Linked DNA regions of Homo sapiens: region 2 is linked to region 1. Evidence: fine-mapped expression QTL. Tissue or cell type: whole blood. Region 1 holds a variant in brackets; the other region holds the start of a gene. All regions are shown on one strand. Distances are between the middles of the regions.

What was found. PIP is the estimated chance that this variant, and not a neighbour inherited with it, causes the effect.
Region 2: it holds the start of NFIB, and the variant in region 1 is fine-mapped to the expression of NFIB in whole blood (INTERVAL, PIP above 0.99).

What each region holds. Positions count from the first base shown.
Region 1 is chr9:14,194,467-14,205,251 of GRCh38, forward strand. The region is part of intron 2 of NFIB (nuclear factor I B); the gene reads right to left. It also overlaps the pseudogene RPL7AP47. Among named protein-coding and RNA genes, the nearest start is that of NFIB, 110 kb to the right of the region's middle. RefSeq lists an enhancer at 10,022-10,521. The variant G/A (reference allele first, on the strand shown) is at 4,957.
Region 2 is chr9:14,309,455-14,320,239 of GRCh38, forward strand. It overlaps NFIB (nuclear factor I B), which reads right to left and starts at 4,687. Exons shown (of 11, transcript NM_001190737.2): 1 at 4,028-4,687. The coding sequence starts at 4,057. NFIB-AS1 (NFIB antisense RNA 1) reads left to right here and starts at 7,633. Exons shown (of 2, transcript NR_186536.1): 1 at 7,633-7,891. RefSeq lists a silencer at 4,096-4,390.

The DNA of each region.
Region 1 (10,785 bases):
CAGATAGGAAAACGAATCCAACTTTTAACCAAATTTTTTATTACACACATACTATTTGAAACTTAAACTTTCATTCTAAGTTACAGTCAAAAAAGAAAAAAGACAATAAGAAGAAATAAAAATTATCCCAGTTCTTCCAATGTACTGTATATGTATATGCTATGATTTAAGAATTATGCCATAGGAATAGATAATTCAATTAAAGCCAAGATAAAACAAATGAGATACATTATACTAAGCAGATAGCAAATTATGATATAATTTGGCTGAGAAATAGGTTGAAACAGGCACTATCTTAGAAATGGGATGACAGCAAAGAACTAAGCTCCACCTTCAATGTATTTGAAGGTCTGTTTGGAGCCAATTTACACAAAATATCCACTTACCAATTTCACAGAAGATAGAACAAAATAACACTGAGATAACGTATTAGGAAATTATTTTTTAATATTGGAGGTGCACTCTACCACCTCAATCCAGCACACATTCTCTCTCTCTCTCTCTTTCACAAAAGAGAAAGAGATCCCGTAAGCTTCTCCACAATGTTCTATACCTGACCCTGGAAGGAAATCCTATTCTTCTAGGCTTGCTTAAGCCAATAAGGTCCCCAGAGAATGCTAACTGGGGTGGTTATGTGCCCAAGAATTGAACTGAAACCATTAATTTACTTCATAGGACCAATCAACTGGCAAAAGAAGTTAAAAAAAAACAAAAAACAAAAAACTTTTGGTAGAACTGACCTACAGAGAATTTAAACCGCCAGAGATGGCAAGGTTTGATGTTACAGCTTCCTTCATCCATCTGCAAAGCTCTGTCACTACCTAATAAATGCACAATGCTTCTCTCTCCTGTGGTGCTTTTAGGAAATAATGCTTGTCATTTTCCATCTTATTGACAAAATATTGTATTTTTTAGAAAACTCCATATCTAAGGAATACTTTAATGAAATAAAGATGGGTTAAAACATCAAGCTAATTTTGTGAGCACACGAAACAGAGAAATAATCTCAAAGAAAATGATAAATTCTAATTTTTATTTGAAAGTATAAAGCACATATGAGACGACTTTTATTGTGTTGCCACTTCATTCTTGTTTATTTAGGTTTCTTTATTCACTGTCGATATAAATGACTGCAGTGAAGCCAGGATTGCAGACCAAATCTGAATTTGGAAGTTTGGCTACAGCAATCTGGATCCCAAAGCCAAAGCTTCCTCCTCACATTAGACTCCCATTCAAAGCTATCACTGTGTTTTCAAAGTGACAACACTGTTCAACTTTCTTTTCACAGAGCAGGAATCTTTTATGGCATTAAGGGTATGTATGTCACACCATGAAAAACACAATGACATTGCAAACATAGACAAAGGAATCTAGTAAGGGCATTGGGAGGAAAAAGGGGGTGGGGTATTTAAGAAAATGTTTTTTAAACTTTTTTTTTTGCAAAAGAAAATGCATAATAATAAAATAATAACTGAAAGTTCCCTATTAATATCATCCAGCAATTATTAAAAATAGAATAAATTAGCTGATATGATCCAATCACCTGGTAGGGAACAGCATGTGTCTCCTTAGTCCATTGGCAGTGCTAATGGTGCTCCTAAATGAAGGATTTTTTTTTTCTATGTTCACGCTGGTTGAACTTAATTTTCCGTTCACCTGTTTACCTGGATTAGTTTTCAGCTTAACATTCATTAAGCATCAAGACATAACAAGAGGTGCAGTGATGATGAGATAAAAGTCTCAAGGCCATTACTCCTCCCATGAGGCACTCAGGGAGGATCTATAAGTGAAAGATAGCTTCACTCGCTTGGGTTAAAGTGAAAAAATATGAACCCACTCTAGAACTTTGAAAATCAAAGAGAGCTTTAAAAAGCCGTGTGTTTATGTTTTGCCTAATTTTTCACTTTTTCTCATTAGAAGGCAAGGTCTGACTAAATGTGGGTTATTTCTGATATCTCAGCTTCTAGTTTGCGGAAGGGGGTTCCTGTTTAAGGGAGGGAATGCTGCCACCCCCTACTCTCCCCAGCAGCAGCACACTGGACACCTGAGAAGCCAAAAGCGCTACACCAAAATATACCACCTTTAATCACAAATCAAACAACAGTAATTAGGAGCATCAAGTTAATTGTGTCTACTCCCCACAGAATGTGTCCTCCAAGGCTCCTTGAAATCAGGTTGAAAGATTAGTAGTAATTTTACTCCCAATTCTCTTATTCTAACTTAAAAAAAAAAAAAAAAACAGAGCCTAAGTTCATCACTCCTACCCTCAGAACTATGGAGTCTACAAGTAAAACCTTAAAAAGAAAAATCAGACTACTTAATTAAGTGTTTTCTTAGGCCGTTTATGTAATCAGAGTAACTTTGATCTTTGGCTTCTTAATCTGTTCAAAATTTGTTGTCAAATCGTATGGAATTCCTTTAAATCCAGAATTATAAATGTTATTTTCCATTTGTCTTTTATTAATGATTAAGACAACTTGGCAGTTTGAATCCAATCAATCAAGAATGTGCAAAATCCATTTCATATACATTGGTACAATTAGATACTGACAATAAGGCTCTTTCTTACCTTCCATTTGTACTAAATATGATAAAGATAGCAAGAATACCTTAGCTATTTTCGAGGCATTTTCATCTACATTACTTTGCAATCCCGAAATAGGTTGTGCTTTATTCTGACCCTTTACAATTACCAGAAAGGAATGCAGAGCTTGACAACTTGCAGAGTAATAGAAAAACCTTGATTTTTCATTGCATTTCCCCTTCTGACTTTCTTAGGATCTGAGGGACGACCCTTAACCTTTCTCAGTCTCACTCTCCTGTCTCAAACAAGCTATAATAAAACTTTATTCCAGTCCACTGGGGTATTAGAACAATGAATCTGATAGGATGTCCCTAACACACTGTACTGTGATCTCTATAGGGAAAGTTGCTATAAAAATAAAGACACTGTTGTTATTCTTCCAATTGAGTTATTTGCAAATGGATCTTCTTGATGGAGCCCAGCCCTCCGATATAGAAAAGAAAATTCTATCAGTCCTCTAGGGTACAATTGCCTTGTGGCAATTATACCCATAACCACATTTCCTTATTACTATTTATAAAAGACTGTGGAGTTCAAGGGGAGGCAAAAAGGGAGCTTAAGAAAAAATATGCTGTTTATTTTCAACAGAAGATGCTGAAGTTGCAAATTTGGAACTCAAGGCTATAGGTAAACTTTGACAGAACATGTGTTCCAAATTAGTGTGGTGTTTCTTAGCTGTGTCAGAAAGTCAGAGGTGTCCCTGAGGCTGCAGCGCTTTAGCAAATTTTGGAAATAACTTGGGGAAAAAAAAGGTAAATTACACAGTTAATCTGGTCCTCACTCTACGAATGCTACAAAACAATGACGAAAAGGTTCACGGCTAGACCATTCTCACCAAGAAAGACAGCATATCTCGAGGTACAAAAGGCACAAAAGAAAATTAAACTGAGCTTAGGAAGAAAGTGCTATGGACAATTTTACATGAAAAGCCAAAAGGGAATGTTGGGGCTACGTTGAACTTTCCTGGAGTCTACAGACAGAATACACGTTGCCCCCTATATTCATTACCAACAGCCATAAGAATTAGTAGGTGGCTCAGGTTTAGGCACTTTAAGAATTCCATATTCCTCAAATGGAATTTTTTCAAAGTAAATAATAAAAGCTTTGCTTTATGAAGTATTAGAGAAATGGGGTTTCCCTTCCATAACAGAAATCACTAGGCCCATCACACTGCACGTCTCCAAGGAGCATGATTCACAGTGTGGGCTACGGGGAGGGAGCCTTCTAAAGTCGTTTCGGATGTTCACTATGGCATTCTACGTGTCATTAAAAAAGCCTTATAAATCATCCTAAAATTTAGAGTTTAAACCTGGAACAATTACTTGGATAAAGTTTCTTATGTTAACAGGTTTTTAAAAGTTCAATTTTCAGAAAAGTGTTTGTTGTCAGTGGAGATCTGCATATAATCTAGATTCCAATTAAACACAGAGCTCCAAAAAGACCAATTAAAGGAGAAGTAGAACAGCTTGCCGTATCATGACAATAAATGCTACTTGCCTTATTGTCATTTCACAATCAGTGACATTCAGTCCACAAATTCTAGTGAGCATCAGATTCACCTGAGATGCTTGTTAGAAATTCAGATTCCTCGACCTCACCCGCAATGACTGGGACTCGTACAGCAATGCTGGGGCCAAGAAAGCGCTCTCAACAAGCACCCCAGGTAACTCCCGCACATTGTTCTCAGCCAGTGTACAAGGGACTTGGCTGCTGATGCTTGCTCACAGACACCAAACTGGAAAGCAAAAGGCAGTATGTGACTATAGAGTCCTGAAAACACAAACAAACAAAAATGCAGTCCTTAAGCCAAAACCAATCTCCACTTTTCTCCCTCTCCCTGCCATGTGATGCACCAGCTTTGGCCAAAAATCACATGTGTACAGTGAATCCTAAAAAGCAACTAAATCCAAATCCACACTGAACCATTCTGAACTCTATCACACTTCACAGAGCTTTAAATAGAATTCTACTCAAAACATCACACCCTGACTGGCCAAGGGATTCTTTGGGTTCTGTTGCTTTATCCAAGTGATCCAAAGTGACCCAGGTTCCATTCTGCAAGTTCGCTTCTACAGCTTTTTCCAAGTCGAACACAGAAGGATTAAAAAGAAAACACAAATATTGGCATAGGTGACTTGAGGTTACTTGACCTTTCTGAAGGAAGATTTTTTGGCAATTGTGTTCTGGCAGCTCCCTGGAAGGCAAGGCCAGGACACAAAGAGGAAGACAGGAAGCCGGGAGCTGGCCATGTGTCCTTGGCAGGCAGTAGTGCGGCAGGGTGAACCACCTCATCCCTGCCAAACCAGAAACAGTGGGGAAAGCCCAGCTAATTGGCAACTCACAGCCGGCTACAGTGTACATCCTCGGCTTTA[G/A]ATGCCTGATAAAGTTAAATGGCCTGCCAGACCCTAATCTACTTAAACAGGATCCTCCTTTACTTTCAAAAACTTAACTCACCCATTTGTGTTTCCTTAAGGAAGTGGTAAGGCAGCATCTTAGAATGTTAAGAGCTGGAAAAATTAAAAACAAAACAGCAAAAAAAGTAAAGATGTGTTGGAGTCTCATTATGCTTATAGCCGTTTTACTTTGTGAAAGGGCCATGTATGTTTGTGCTTTTGGTTTTAGCTAATAAGACTTCCACTTGGTCATTTATTTTTATTTAAAAGAAATTCTCAAGTCAACATTGCAGACTGATTATGACTTCAGTTCATTGGAGGATCCAGGATCCATTTTTTTTTTAATTTCACAAAACTCCTGAAGATATCCAAGGAGACTGCAGAGTTGCACCCAGTTTCCACTCAGCTATTGTTTTTACTTACACATTAGTTGGCTCAATCATATTTGCTAAGGTATTTCTGTATGTACTAGCATAAAATCACCACTTTCTGAGTCTTTTACAGCTAAAATAGGGAATCACGCAGGGAGAACAGGAGCAGAAGGGATTGTCCAAATAAACTGTTCCTTACTGCTGCTGCTAACAGAGTGAATCCAGGGACCTGGAGCCTGGAGCATAATTTTGCCCCTAGGTCTGAAGGCCTGGTAAGAGCAATTTAAAGGGGTGTGCTCAGTAGTTGGGCATATTTCCTTCTATTTTCTGTGAAACTGTTCATGCCTTCTTCAAAACTCAAAGCAAAATTTCAAATTAGCTTCTCCTCCTTAAAATATAGTAGTCAATGGTGAAATTTGATGAAGAAAATGCAAATTTCCTCTCAGAACTGGTAGAAGAGAAAGATTACAATAAACATAATCCACTGTTTTCATCAGAAGTTTCTTAAAGTCTACAGAATATTCATCCTTTAAGCAACCCAGGACCCCAGAATCTGTTTCAGTGAAGTTAGACCAAGGAATAAAACACAATACCAAAACTCACATACTCTCTGATCACGATGTGAGATAAGAAAATAATAATCCTCATGCCCAACACTAGCTCTCAGGATCGGTAAGTCTAAGTATGTGTTTCAGCTCCAAAATTACTATTTTTTTTAAAACACGACTTGACTTTCCCAGACTCTACTTAGTTGACTTTTCACACTAAGTATCCCTAGCTTTTGGAAATTCTCCTTCCCTTTTCCTTTAGGGCACCACTCCTTTCTTAGGTCCAATCCTCTATTTCTGAGGGCTGCTTTCCTGTCTTGATGGCTATCTCCTTCTCTTCTGTTGGTCCCTTATATGTTGGTGATCCCAAAGACGATCCATCCAACTTGGCCATCTTCTTGTCTTTGTACATTCCCCCTCAGCAAACTCAGCTAGGTCCATGTTTACAAATACTACCCGTTTTTTGAGAACTCTGTATCTCCATATCTAGCCCTAACCTCTTCTTTAACTGCAAAACTCCTCCTGATGTTGCTAGTGCACAACCTTTGTACACTCTTGCCTCCCCGCAACCAATCCATATCTCAATTAATGGCATTCACAGCCATTCAGTTTCCCAAGCTGAAAATGCTCATTCCAGAAACCCCAACTCCCCAAAGCTTCACATTCAGTTGTCAGCCCAGACTCTATCTTCCTTTCAAGCCTATTTCCCCATCTCCATCCCAACTGGTGCTAAGTCCCTTATTGAGCTTCACATTTTTACCTCACAATAGCCTCAGCCTCCTCAGGCCATTATGATTCACTCTTCACACTATAACCAGACTCCATCCTCTGCATAGCCACCAGGAATCACAACACTTCACTCCTTAAAACACCTTGGTGGCTTCCAATTGCTAGCTAGGATAATCTACAACCTCCTTAGTACAGCATTCAAGGTGCTCCATAACCTGGCCCCAGCCTAGCCTCACTCTCACAGAAACCATCACCCTTTACCCTCCCCCTCACACCCACACCCAACTTCCTAATATTCTTCTTAACAGTCCTAGAATATGCCGTGCAACTGCAGGTCTGTGCCCTTGCTCATAAGGTTTCTATGCCTGGAATATCCCTTATTTGATGCAAGACAAACGCCTAATTCATCTTTAAAAGCTCTTGAATTTCGTCTGTTACAACCTTCCTGAACCTTATTGCCCCATCTAATGAGACCACCCTCTGGGGCCCACATGGTCTTGCTCACACTTTAGTGCAGGGCCCGACCAGTGCATTATAGTTGGTTGTTTATACATTACTTCTCTCCAAGATTGTGACCTCCTGTATCCCAACTTACCCTGAATAATTTTGGGAATCTATTTAAATGGCATACAAATTTATCTTGGATGTACTATCCATGAAGAAACTGAGACAAAGAGCATTAATTCCCAAAAGAAAGACAAAGTAACCTTAAAAAAAAAAAGTCATAATGAGCTATCAATTTATACAGGTAATTAACATTCAATATTCTGATTGTGACATATACAGATGATATTTATCCATTCGTTTATTTTTTTGAAAAGGACTGAACACCTACAGTGGTCCATGTATCATCCTTGGAACTCAGTCTACAACAGTCAATAAAAGATGATTTGTTCTTGTCTTCATGGAGCTTATGGTTTCATTTGCACAATGTTGACTTTCATTCACTTGCTAGCAGGTAAAATGTGCTCTCTATACAATTTACAAATAAGCAGAATCTGTAATCATTATATTTTGAAGATAAAATTGATACTTTTCACACACACACACACACACACACACACACACACACAAAGATTTAGCAGTGGGACAAACTTTTTCATTTAATTTTTGTTTATAGCAACTAAAACATGAGAGACTAAAAGCCACAGACTGCAAAAGCATTGTTTAGCTGTGATAAGCAGAATGTGTAAAGGTGGTATGATGGCACAACAGCTATTGCAGCATGAAATAATGAGACTATAAAATAATGAGACCACAGTTTTAAAATTCTCCGACTTCCATTATCTTTCAGAATAGATGAAAGGGGTCTACTGACTAGTTCGGGAGCTGAAGAGTCAAATACTATTTTAGGATGAAAATTACTTTGTGGTCACATCCCATTATAGAATATTGATGGAGCCACACTACATGAAAGTCTCAAAAGGAGTACTGAGAGAAAACATCGTTAAGAATTGGTTTTCTGCTACTCAAACCCATCCTCAAGAAAAAACAAAAGCTAATTTAAAAAAATCATCACCAAAGCAAAGTTTCTAAATGGAATGACATAAAAATATCGGTTCTACGTTTCTTGTCTTTTAGAAAAACGACCCATATGTGTAGTATTTTATATGGTTTTCTCTAACGTATCTGAGAAATGGGTAAGCAAATCTATGCAAAGAGATATCATGGATTGTGATGTCATATTTCTTATGAAAAAAATCACCTTCACAATGTCAATTAATACCAAATTTAGCTTTACAACTCCATGAACTCTACCATTTTTTAGGTTAGCTGAAAACGATCTATTGACTAGCTTTGTGAGCTGAACAGTTGAATGCTACTTACATAGAAAATTATTTCTTTCACTCCATAAGAATAATTATCATGGCGATCACACAATTATTACAATTACATCTGTAAGAACTGTTACTGGGAATTTATCTCTGAAACAGTCTCATGCCTTGCAGGGGACATTTATCTTTTTGAATGATCATCAACACGAGTGTCTTTTTGTAGCTATATAAGTGATTTTTACCTCCTTCTATTAATATCCTCTTGCATGCTTTAGAAGCCAAAGGAGACAGCCCCCACATTTTTTTTTTCCTAAAGCAATTGTTTCAGTTAAGCCAGGCCCATGGCATCTTTTGAGACAGAAAGCTACCCTTTCCATTCACGGCAACATAACATTCACAATGTGCTTTCCTAAATGGATGGAAAACCCCTCAAAAAAGCCCCTCAAATCTGTGTTTCATAAACTGTACTCTTAGCAATAAAGTTTATTACAGACCTAAAGTATCTGCATAAACCCGGTTAATTGAAAAGTGGGTGGAGAAGGCTGCCAAATTAAATGTTTACATTAGCACAGCTGTATTGTAAAAACATTCTGCCCCCTGTGCTTTGTAATTATAAGATATTTCTGGACTGTGTATCTCTACAAAGTTTATCTCCACTGCCAAGAGTGTCTTGGCACGGAGCGACTGCAGTTTTTGGCAGCCAGGAGCTCTCCGCGCGGGCAGGATCTAAAATGGCTGCCAAGCGGCCTCCTGAAATGTCGCCGGCCTGGGCCCGCCTCACCAAGGGCAAAGGCCAACCCTGCTACCAAGGCAGGGTCTAAAGTCTGTCTCACAGGAAGTCAAAATGTGTATTTCCCTCATAAATAAGACTTGGTACCACAACTTTTGTGTTGCAGTAGTTAAAGCTGCTTGAAAAACTAACTACAAAGGAATATTGGAATACTACCAGATAGAAAATGGTGACAAGGGGTCTTTTACGAAATTCTGCTGACCTCAACATTTCAATCACACATAATGCCCGCAATATTTTCTGCTGATTAAAGAAACTCATTTAATTTGTGGGGAAAAAAAAATGTTAAAAAAAACCTCAACAAATTCTGACCATATTAAAACATACTACAGAGAAGCATAAGCAAAGCCAACACTTTCCCATTTGCAATGGCATGATTTTGACATAAACTTATAATCTCTATCAAAGCATACGTGTATGAAAAATGAAAACCAAAAAATTAATTTGTTTTCTTCTCATCCTTTAACAGGCTATGTTTGTCTTACAACATTAAAATAACATTAACAAAAGAAAACCTTTTCATACCTTTCTATGGCACAGGCCTCAAAATTTGAGGAATGATCTCTCTTTTCCCGCCGTCCACTGCCCAAGATGTGGAAAGGAAAGAAGGCCAAGGGGAAGAAGGTGGCTCCGGCCCCTGCTGTCTTGAAGAAGCAGGAGGCCAAGAAAGTGGTCAACCCCCTGTTTGAGAAAAGGCCTAAGAATTTTGGCATTAGACAGGACATCCAGCCCAAAAGAGACCTCGCCCGCTTTGTGAAATGGCCCCGCTATAGCAGGTTGCAGCGGCAGAGAGTCATCCTCTATAAGCGACTGAAAATGCCTCCTGCGATTAACCAGTTCACCCAGGACCTGGACCACCAAACAGCTACTCAGCTGCTTAAGCTGCCCCACAAGTACAGACCAGAGACAAAGCAAGAGAAGAAGCAGAGGCTGTTGGCCCGGGCGGAGAAGAAAGCGCCGGCAAAGGGGACCTCCCCACTAAGAACACCTGTCCTTCAAGCAGGAGTTAACACCATCACCACCTTGGTGTAGAATAAGAAAGCTCAGTTGGTGGTGATTGCATACAACATGGATCCCATCGAGCTGGTTGTGTTCCTGCCTGCCCTGTGTCGTAAAATGGGGGTCCCTTACTGCAATATCAAGGGGAAGACAAGACTGGGACATCTAATCCACAGGAAGACCTGCACCACTGCTGCCTTCATACAGGTTAACTCAGAAGACAAAGGGGCTTTGGTTAAGCTGGTGGTAGCTATCAGAACCAATTACAACGACAGAGCCAATGAGATCCGTCATCACTGGGGAGGCAATGTCCTGGGTCCCAAGCCTGTGGCTTACATTGCCAAGCTCAAAAGGCAAAAGCTAAAGAACTTGCCACCAAACTGGGTTAAATGTACACTGTTGAGTTTTCTGTACATAAAAATAATACAAATTTCCCTTCAAAAAACATCTGAGGAATTAACTATGTCTGTGGCATAAAACTGAAAAAAACCGAGATCAGATACATAGTCTCTGTGAGTGAGTTCCAAGGGCTGACCAAAGGAACAAAAATTGGAAGGAAGGGAGGGGAGGGGAGGGGGAAAAAAGAAGGGAGGAAG
Region 2 (10,785 bases), 110 kb after region 1:
ATTACATCACAGCATGAGGCATACCCAAATGCCATAGAGGAAATCATTAAACCGATCAGTAGTTTCCAGCAGAGATTTGAACAATTCAGTTACTATGCGAGCACATTAAACTAGGCCATGGAAAGAGTTAAACCACAATCTGTTCTTTGTGTGGGAAGGCAGCCCTGCTCACAGCAACCACATCCCATGATAAGACCTCCCTATCTCCATACACTTTCTGATGCCATGCTTTTAGCTTTCACTGTAACTACAAAAACTTTGTTTATCCCCTTTAGGAATATATGCAAAAGGAAAGCCTGCTCAAGGAAATGTGGACTTAAATGTGCTTTGGAAACTCACTTCCTATAATCTTTTACTACGATTTATTGATATGACTAAAAAACACACATATATGCACTCACAAAACTAAAACCTTGAGAATGTAAAGAGCACATGAGGTGGAGTGGGTGGGCTCTGTCTCACTCATTTTACCCTTGCCATGCTTTTTAAAATGCAATATTATTTTATAAATATTAAGCCATGTGGTAACACGTAAGTACTTACACCTTAAGTACTATGTTCAGTGACATTTCATTTTCTTATAAAGACATCAAACACAGTTTTGATTAAATTTGAGTTTCAATATTTGATTATAAATATAATCTATCACACAAGAAAGCTCAAAATTTTAATGAGTTATTTTAAACAACCAAAATTCAAATTTGAAGGTTGAATTTGAAAATTCTTAGCAAATGCACACAGTTTTTAAACGTTCCTTTGACTTTGCTGTCAATGCTGCCAATATTGTTTTAAAACATGCTCTTTTTTTTGAGAAATAAAAGTAGCAAACTTTCTCAGGCTGCCAGTTTGCCTTATTGATATCGTTCAGGGTTTCACTATTATGTGAATTCAAGTGAAGCACTTATTTGACAAGGGGACATATCCTCCAAAAATGACTGTAAATTGAGGTTTGCTGTAAGTCGCATATATTTCTGTATTAACATGCCTAAATGTCATCTCCCAAGTGTGACTGTTTCCTAATGCTGAGTAACACTAGAGTCTTAAAGATTATGAGTGACATGAATATGGAACATAATAACTGTCCTGATACAAAAATATTTTTTTAAAAGGTGATTAAGGTTTTCAAATATCCTAACTAGTAGTGGATTATTACAATAGCATTAAGCAATCATAAATTCTTTAAAAAAAGCAAAACATATAAGTGATTTAAAACCAAACAACTGTATACAAAGGTAATAGGCAACTTTGCTCTTTCAGAATTTTTAGTAAAATGCATTGATGTTCAGTAATTCTCTTTTAAAACTTCCTTTAGTTGAACTAAATTGACAAAGTAAATAACAAAGTTACCAATTTCAGATATAAAAATAAAGAGTCTTAATTCCACTAGGCATATTTATTTTTCTTCCGTTTCCATGAAAGGGATGGATAATTTAGACCAACATAGAGGTAGAAGAGTAAATACTAGGTGCTCTTGGCGCATTGCTATATAACAACAAATCATGCAAAAAATGTACCTAAAGAACTTAAAAGCAACGAAAGAAAAATATATTTAATGCCATCATGCCAATTGAAAGTTATATTATTAATGGTTTACATTATTTTTAAACATATATTAAATCATATGATAGTTCTTAATTTTTCCTTTATATCTGATTTATACTGGTGTATAAATATTGGTTATTGATATGCTGATTTTGTAGCATACTATTTTGCTAAACATAACATTTAATGGTAGGTCCTTTTAAATTAAGATTTTTTTTCTAAAACCTAGATACCTTATTGCAACAATTGAGATACTTTTAAAAGTTTATAACCAATTAAGAATGATACTCTATTTTGCAATTTACATGTCCTGAGACATGTTTTTCTACAGCTACTAGGCTCTTGTGATACAAAACTACTGATCTGATACAAAAGTGACACTATTAATGTGGCCTCACTTTTATAACACCTATATTACCTGCAAAGTCACATGGAGCTTAGTGAAGTGAAAATTCTTAAGCTGAAATTCCTTCCCTGGTGTAGGCCTTGTTTTAATACATAAGCCTAGATTTATATTATTAAAATAGTAGAGAATATTAGTCATCACAAGTTATTGTTGTTAAGTGTGTATCTCTGAATACTAATGTGATAGCTGAATGATTATGCTGTATATGATCCCAACATTCCCTGTCTCAATGCTGCAATATTATCTTTAACTTACACAAATTAAGATAAAACTAGTGACTTTTCAATACATATTTGGAGGATACTAAAAATGCAATGTAATTGCTAGCAATGTTTCTGAAAAGCTGATGTTAGAAATATAGAGAAATGCACAATTATTCAATCTTTTACAGGTGAGAATAAGTGATGCTATACTCTGTAAGTGAAAATCTTGCTTTGATTTGTTTTATTTGATCACGGTGTAAAAATAATATCAAGTTAACACAGCTTATCAGAAAGAGAAAAATATATCCAGCCGATGGGTAATATTAATGGTAACTTTTACAAGTAAAGGCAATTCGTTATACCTGAAACAGTTTCATCATATTTATTGGCTATTATCATTCATGGCTTTTAAAATACAAATAGCTCAGCAACTCATTTTTCCAGTTTTGTTAAATTAAAGTGCGTGTTTACTTGCTGAAAATAGCCATATCTAAGTTAATCATACTCAGATGCCAAACAAAATATAAACAATAAAAAATGTGTCAGCCAAAAAGCTACAGGACTGTATCCAATCACTGAATAAGCCTTATCATTGTTTTCATCTTCATTCACAATTTATGAATGCCTCAGTCCTTTTGAATCACAATGGCTTCTAATTGTCATACAATTGAAATCTTAATTATTTGTCCATTATAAAAATGCATCATCGTGATATTAGATGTTTTTAAAATTTTAACACGCCCAAGACTGGCTGACACTTCTTTATATGACTAGTTTTCATGGCAATGTCAAAGAAAATAGTTATCAATTACCAATGGTGACACATCTTCCGAAAAGCTGAAATAAGCTGCCCCATACCTTTAGAGGTTTAAAATACTGCCTCAAATAACAGTTCTGGGCTAAGATATTTTAGTTACTTTGTCAGTTGTTAGTTCCCTGGGCAGCGATGAAAACTGCCCCCAGGTAAGTCTGTTGGGTCTCGCCGCTTTTCTATTTGACCGTCTGGCTTAAAGTGATACAAATCGTGTTTCTAAAAAGTATAAAACCAGTGTTTTATTTCATAACATTATTCCTAAGGTCTTAGGACAATTCTCAAAGTCGAAAAAAATGACCTTACTTCTACCAGCATTACTTAAAATGCCTTACGAGCTACGCCCAAATATCGTCAAATGAACAGGTTTCCACAAAAGGAACACGTTCTAAAAACTCCTTAACAATCACCAAGACCAACTAACTCGTGTCAACGTAAATACTGCCTTTGTGGTGCGGTCACTAGAAACCCCAAAGTGCAGCAGGTCACTATGGACCAGGGTTTCAGATCCCCAAATAAAGCAAAGGAATGGGTCCCCGGACCACAACCTCCGACTCGATTCGTCGCCCGCCCACCGCCTGCAGCGCAGTCCAGCGGCGCCCACACAGACTCGTGCTACAGTCCCCTCGCCCAAGTTCACTGGCTGTTTTTAAAAGCTTAGTCCCCCGTAAAGTCCTCCAAAGCCCGAGTCCACCTCAACGCGCGAGCTGCTGAGAGGGGCTACGGGCACCCCGGGCGGGGATGCCGCACCACAACGGGCACTTGAGGGGCCGCACGGGGCCTCGCACTTACAGGTCCCGGCCCTGCCCACCCCCCGGCGGCCTTGCCCGGCCCAGCGCCCGCGCTCCGTGCCCAGGGCGCGGGGCTGGGCGCTCGCAGTGGCCGTGGCGAGGGGCCGCTCCCGGCTCCCACGCCGCCCCGCGACGCCCGCTGCAACTCCGGGCCACTTCTCCAAGGGACGGGGATGTGCGGAGGTTAACTCAAGCCGCTAATTGTCCGCAACAAAACAAAACAAAGGCATTTCGGGCCAGAGAGAAAGCTCGAGAAAGCGACCGAGACATGTACCTGAGTGAGACAGATGGGAGAATACATCATGACTTCGCCTTAAAACGCACTTTCCGGGAGATGCCCAAGAAAATCTTCGAGAAGCAAGAATTTCATCTATTCATTTTACAGTCATCTGAGCCCCGCGATGCGATCAATCAGGACGGGGCTCTGCGCTGGATCACCGCAACTTCACAACAAACCCAGTCCTCCTTAAATAGCCAAAGATTCAAGTTCACTCGGCGTGCTAGATTTCCAGGGGTGAAATCCAATCTACACTTTTAACCCTCTTGCAGTCCGAGCGCGCTGGCCGTGCTTGCCGAGGCCGCCGCCGCCGCCGGTGTTGGCTGCTTTTCGCCTGGGTTTGGGGATTTGTTTTCTATTTTGCAGTTGTTGTTGTTGTTGGGGTGTAGGGGGTGCGCGAAGGTTCGGTGTGGGTTGGATTGGGGTGGTGGTTGGTGGTAAAATGCTTTTTCAAAAAAGGCGGGGAGGGGGGCGCGGGAGGGCGCAGGAGGGCGAGCGGGCGGGCGGGAGGGAGAGCGGGGAGAATGTGTCACCGCGCTGGGAAAGTTCAAGGTTACAGCCCCAAGCACTGCGGCAGGATCCCGGAGTGGTGATCGCAGGCGAAACTTTGCCGCGAGCCGACCATGTGTGTGCGCGAGGGGCAGCGTGAGCGAGTGCGCGCGGGTGGCGGGGCGCGCGCGGGAGAGGGCCGGGGTGGGGGCGGGGTGGGATGGGGGAGAAGGGAGAGGCCGGGGTGAGGGAGGGGGCGCGAGCGCTGATCTCTGGGGCGGAAGAGGCTCGCGGCGCGTGGTCCCCGGCAGCAGCAGCCGCCGCCGCCCGCGCCGGGTCTTCGGCGCCCGGCCGCCCGCCCGCCCGCCTCGCCCCGCGTCTGACCCGGCCGAGCGTGGAGGCTGCTGTTGCCGCCGCTGCCCAGAGCCCAGGGGTATCAAAACGATCTCCTGAAAAATTCCAAACGATAAATCCCGCTCTCCCGCTCGGCTCCAAACTCCTCTCTTTTCTGCTCTAGGCTCTTTTTTTTCCCTCCCTCTCTTGCTTTCTTTCGTTGCAAAACTTGGAAGTTGAAAAATTCACCGGTTCCACCCTCTGGACCCCGCTCGAGCTCTCTCCAAATCAGACTTAAGGATTGTTTTATTATTTAATTACACAATCATCGCTTTACTCCTCCTCCTGCAAACGCGCATTCCTTTTGCACCAGCCTCTCCACACCCCCCGCCCCCCCACCTTCCTCCTCCTCCTCCTTCTCCTTCTCTCCCCCCACCTCTCCCTCATTTGTTAAAGGTATCCTACCGGTGCTACAGAACCATGACTTTTTTTTTTTTTCCAAAATAGCTCTTCTTTCCGCTGCCCTCCCCACACCAGCACACACATACACACCCCCGAAAACCCGCCCTGGAAGAGGTATTTCGGTGCTCGCTGCGGACTCTTTTAAGCCGCGGGAACATCCGAGTGGGAGAAGCACCGAAACCGTCTGAGCCCGAGAAAGGAACGAGTGGAAAATTCCCTCACACCCAGGCCGCCCCCAGGCCGGGGCTGGGGCGCGGACACTCGCACCCGGGGCGGGCTCAGTCCGCGGAGCCTGCGGCTGCCGGGAAAAGGGGGAGGCCGAGCAGGCGGGGACCTGAGCGAACTTGGGCTCAAGTAGTTGGGGCGCGCCGGCGTGGACCAGGGGGGTGCGGCGCCCAGCCCCCGACGGCCCCGCCCGGAGCCCGGGTTCGCGGATAGGGAGGGGGTGCGGGTTCGTCCCGGGTCTGCCCACCAGGGGCCCGCACCCGAGGCAGTCGCGGCGCGCGGCGCTTCGCCGCGGTTTGCCGCCCTCCCCGGGGGTGCCCCGTGCACGTGGCCTCGCTCTGAGCGGGAGGACCGGGCCGAGCCGCCGCCGCCGCCTCTTGCTCCCTCCACCTCCTCCCCGCGCCCGGCTTCGCTCTCCTCCTCCTCCTCCTGCAGCCCCGCTGGCTGGCTCCCAATCCCCACCCCCCGGGGCCCGGGGCGCCGGCGGAAAGCGTCTCCCTACCCGCCCGGGTGCAGGCGGGGCGGGGCCGCGGCGCGCCCGGGGCTGCGGGGCGGGCCGGCGGGCGCGCGCGCGCCGCTGCAGCCCTCCAGAGGCTGCGGGCCCTGAGCCGCTCGGCGCCCGCGCCGGCTCCCCACCGCGGCGCTGCCCCGCCCCCACCCCGTCGCCCGTGCAGGCTCCGAGTGAATGAACTTGATTCCAGGGATTTTGAAGAAGGCGGTTCGCCTTGCACCCTTTCTGCACCCCCCGCCCACATACACACACCGCCCCCCAAATCCAGTTTTCTGCTTGGGGTGGATGGGGACGAGGGGGAAGCAAAGGCCTCCCAGACAATGGAGGGAGGAAAAGTGAGCGCCTGGGGCTCCGAGTCTACCTAGCTGGGGGATCCGGGGGGCGCTGGGGCTACCGGGTCCTCGCGGGCCCATCCCCAGGGCGGGGCCGCCCCGCTTCCACGGGTACTGCTGGGGCGTTTCGAGGCTCGCCCCCGATTCCCCGGTCCTCTTTCCACCGCTTCCCAGCTCGTGATCTGTCCCCTCAACTTTAGCCCCTCTCACTCCCTCTGGTTTCTGTCCACCGTCCCCTCTTCCCTCCCCCAGCGGACCTGGAGGAACCAGTGACTTTTTCCTTCACCAAGTGGGAGTTATCCACATCAAGCATTTCACAACGACACATCAAGAAAAGTAGGCAGGTTCAAGTCAACCATGAAATGGTCACTTTTTAACCCCGTCCTGTCCTCATTAGGGAAATGCTCAAACACAGTCCGTTTTCAAAGAGCGCTCTTAATGAGGCGAGCTTGCCAAGTTTACCAGCTGCAGCCCCCGTAAACCCAGAGCCCAAAGAAGAAAGGCGCTGGGGGGTGGGGAGTTCGGGAGGCCGGGGACGGGGGCTGCTGGGACTAGGAAGACAGGTAAAGTCGGGGAGATCGCGCGGACCCCTGCGAGTTAACCCTTTCGGCCACACGCCCTGGGAGCGGCCTCCCTGCGGTCCCCGCCCCTGCCCCGGCAAATCCTGGAGTCAGCGTTCTGACAACGTTAATTTCCTTTGTGCGGGTCATTTCTTCTTTTTGAAAAGCTGGGATAAAGTTGGCAGTCTTTATGGATGAAAGAAATGAGGTGACAGGGTTAATCCAAGTAAATACTCATTTCTCTCAGAAATTTTAGGCAACCTCATCTTAGATTAAACACACACAGACACACACACACAGAGAAACCACCAGCACGAAAGCATCACTTTGTATTGCACATTACACTGCATCCCCTTTCTCACCCTCACCAGATTCTGAGGGGAGGGGGTGGGGAAGCTCTACTGATAATACCAGCTTTAACTACTGCAGTTTCCCTTTGAACAAATATTCAATTTAACTGGAGTTAATTTACCATAAAAGACATTCCCCTTGGCAGGAATGCACTAATATCCTTGAACACACCTCTTTGAATGCCTGGACTCTCATAGAAGCCATTATTTCGGGGTCTCTTTAAAAATCGAGCGCCCATCTCTCCTTCTCTCCCTCCCTCCCTTCTTCCCTCCCTCCTCACCACACCACCCCCAGTGAAATCCTGGCACCCAGAGAGCACTCCTTTCAGCCTGAGAGCCCAGAACCAGCCGTTGTCCCCTGGCAAAAAGAGGCCCAGGGCTGAGCCCTGGGCAAGTGTCTCCCGACATCGCTACCCCTCCTCCCTTTATTAGTTTCCCTTTCCCAACAGAAACCATTTCCTTCTGCCACCAAAACTAGGTTGCATCCAAAAGTTTTTCACAAGCTTAAAAAAGAAAAACGAAAAATTGACAAGTATTACACAGAAGAGCCCACAAAAGCTTCAGCAACACCAAGGGCGAAGAAGCAGCGTCAGATCCAGGTAAGACCCCAGAGAAGTGAAGACGTCTGGGGCCTCCCAGGCCCATCACTTAGGGGTTCAAATCTCTTTCAATTGCCCCACGTTTGAGGGTGCTTATGGCTGGTTGCACTTTGATGACCATAGAGGATGCTTGATAGTTTTTGGTTTTGATTTGTTTCCCAGAAAAAGGAAAATGAGATAGGAGTATGGTGAGGCGAGGAAAACCAAAAAGGAATGAAGAGTGAGCAACAGAGACTTCCTGAAAAAGAAGGTTTATGGGGGTGCTCAGTTTCTATGGCTTTGACTGTCTTCTCAGGCCTTGCAGCCATGTGGAGAATGGCTGACACCCCCCAAAACACTTCTTCTTGTCCAGCCAATGCCAAGGTCATTGCAGGCCTTCCCTGGAAGAACTCTAGGGAGTTGTTTGGAAAGAGGGACTGGTGGATTTCGGTGCATGGGATGCCTGGCTTCTCTTAACACAACACTTGTCCACCACCTTTGGTTTGAAAATCTCAATCTTTTAAATCCCAGGTAGAAGGAGGAACTGAGAAAGTGCCTGCATTGTATTCACTTTCCATTTTTTCTAGCACGTCTGTGTCGTGGTATTAAGAGTGGAAATATCTCTGAAAAGCTTCTGATAGTATCAAAATGGGCCAAACACTTCTTAAACTTTGGTACTTACCAATCCTAAACTCTTCATCTCTCCCTCCCACACTGAGAGGGTTAAAAGCACTGGTGTGACAGGCCACTTTCATTCACCCCAAAACCTGGCTGAGGAGGCAGAAAGAAGTGAATGATTCTCTCAGCAACAGGAAACTCTGTTATTTCAGTATTCTTAAAGATCTCCTCCCTAGATCTCCTTGCTGCCTTATAAGGGAAAAAAAAAAGTTTCCTTTCTAACTAACAGAAAGTTTATTGATTTCTAAATAGAATGCCAGTGCTTCAGCTCACTGGATTTTTCAAAACCCAGTTGTATATTTGAAATAAGCAACGCTACCACATTTGAGCCTTTCACTACGGATCTCCAGAGAGGAGCTTGACATCTCAAGTATCTAATATTGTTTTTCTTTTAACCTTTTCCTTCCTAAAGAAATTGCAGCGACAGGTTGCAAATCCTGGGCAGTTTCATGAAAGATTTCTTGGAACTTAACAAAGCTGTCATTTCCAATACACTCGATGCCTTTTTTTTTTTTTTTTTTTTTTTTTGGCTCTTGCATGTGGTTTGCAAGAAGGTTCAACTATTCTACACACCCTGGCTGCATCACCAATATCAATATTTAAAAACTAAATGCAAAAGAGACAGATGACCTCCTGACCCCAGAAAGCAGGCCTGCAAAACTGCAAGTATCTACTGCACCATGCCCTGGGATCTTTCCTTTTTCCAAATGAACCACAAAAATCATACATGTGTAGTCTGGAAAACACAAATTTATATCCACAAGGAGGAACACCAAAAATCCACTCATAAATGCATATATAAACAATCAAGAAGTATTGAAAGTGCCTGTACTTGATGAGAATTGCAAAATCAATTTTACCAGCTCAGGTAATCAAATTACCCAGCTCTTAAACTACTACTGAGTACTACTACTACTGTCTACTACTCTTAAACAAAAAACAAAATCATACCCAGCCCTTAACGTACTACTGTCAAATTAGGGTAGTAATTTTTTCCCCACCAGAGAATTCACAACTGGTTAGTTTCCCCACCCCCATTGCTAGCCCTTTGCACTGAAATGAATAAATAACCTTGGACCTTTTTCTCCTCCTCTGGGAGCTATTTGGTGTCCCCTGAGGACAAAAGTAAATGAGAAAAATGACGCTGTTAATAATGTCACTGCCGAAATGCCTCTACTCCACTGTTTAAAAAAAAAAAAAAAGCATCCCACTAAGTGTGTCTACATTTCTAGCATATTTACAAGTTATAATACAGTTCTGATCTCAACACCAACTGAGCCAGATTCCTCCACTAAGGTTATCCGGTTTTCACTTCTCAACAGAGATGAGGCCAGTGCATCAACAGAGATTCCCAACACTGTAAGACACTTGCTTCACAGATTACAAAGTCAGCAGTTGCCCTGTAACTTTTGCATGATGTATTTTAAACTTTGAAAATAGAGGTAATAGTTGCCTCACTTATCCACAATGTTACAAAGGTTCCATATACTCTCTCACACAGTGTCTCTTGTCTGCTGATATTGAGAGAGTTGCAGTTATTGCTCTTTTTCAAAATAGCTGACCTATAAAGTAAAACTATATGACCATTTTATTTCTACAGGTAAACTGGCTTCTATTACCCATATACACATGCCTTGTAACATAGGAAAACAGATGGGTTTTTAAGACAGGTATAGAAAGCTCTGTCCAAAATGGCTAAGTAGTCTTTACATTCTGTATTAAGTATAAAAAGTGCATGGCAGAGCAACTCAAACTTTCTGCACCCCTTTCTCTCATTTCTTCTTTGAAAACTGCATAACAATGCATAACAACAAAATTTCAAAGTCAAAGCAATGCATAACAACAGAATTGTGCATTTTAATTTTCAAATTAAAATTTAAGAAACAATTTTGTAATTACAAAGAAAAAACACAAACAATTGGGCCTAAACAAAATATATGTTCAGTAAACTTTATCTCTGAGTGTATCTGAAATTTTAACTACACAAGCCAATAAATTTCAAAGCAGTAATATTATCAAATTGTGTAATGTCAAAAACTCCAAAAACAAAGTTACAGATGTTCATGACATCACATTCACTCAAAATTATGCTGCTGTTCAGTCTGACCATATTAAAATTAAAGGGATGCCTATGTCTGCTAAAGAATAAAAATTTATTTTGGACCTCAAACAATGAAACCGTCACCATTTCTTGTATGGAACACTCAGCTAATCAATTTCCTATTAAAATAGCTTTC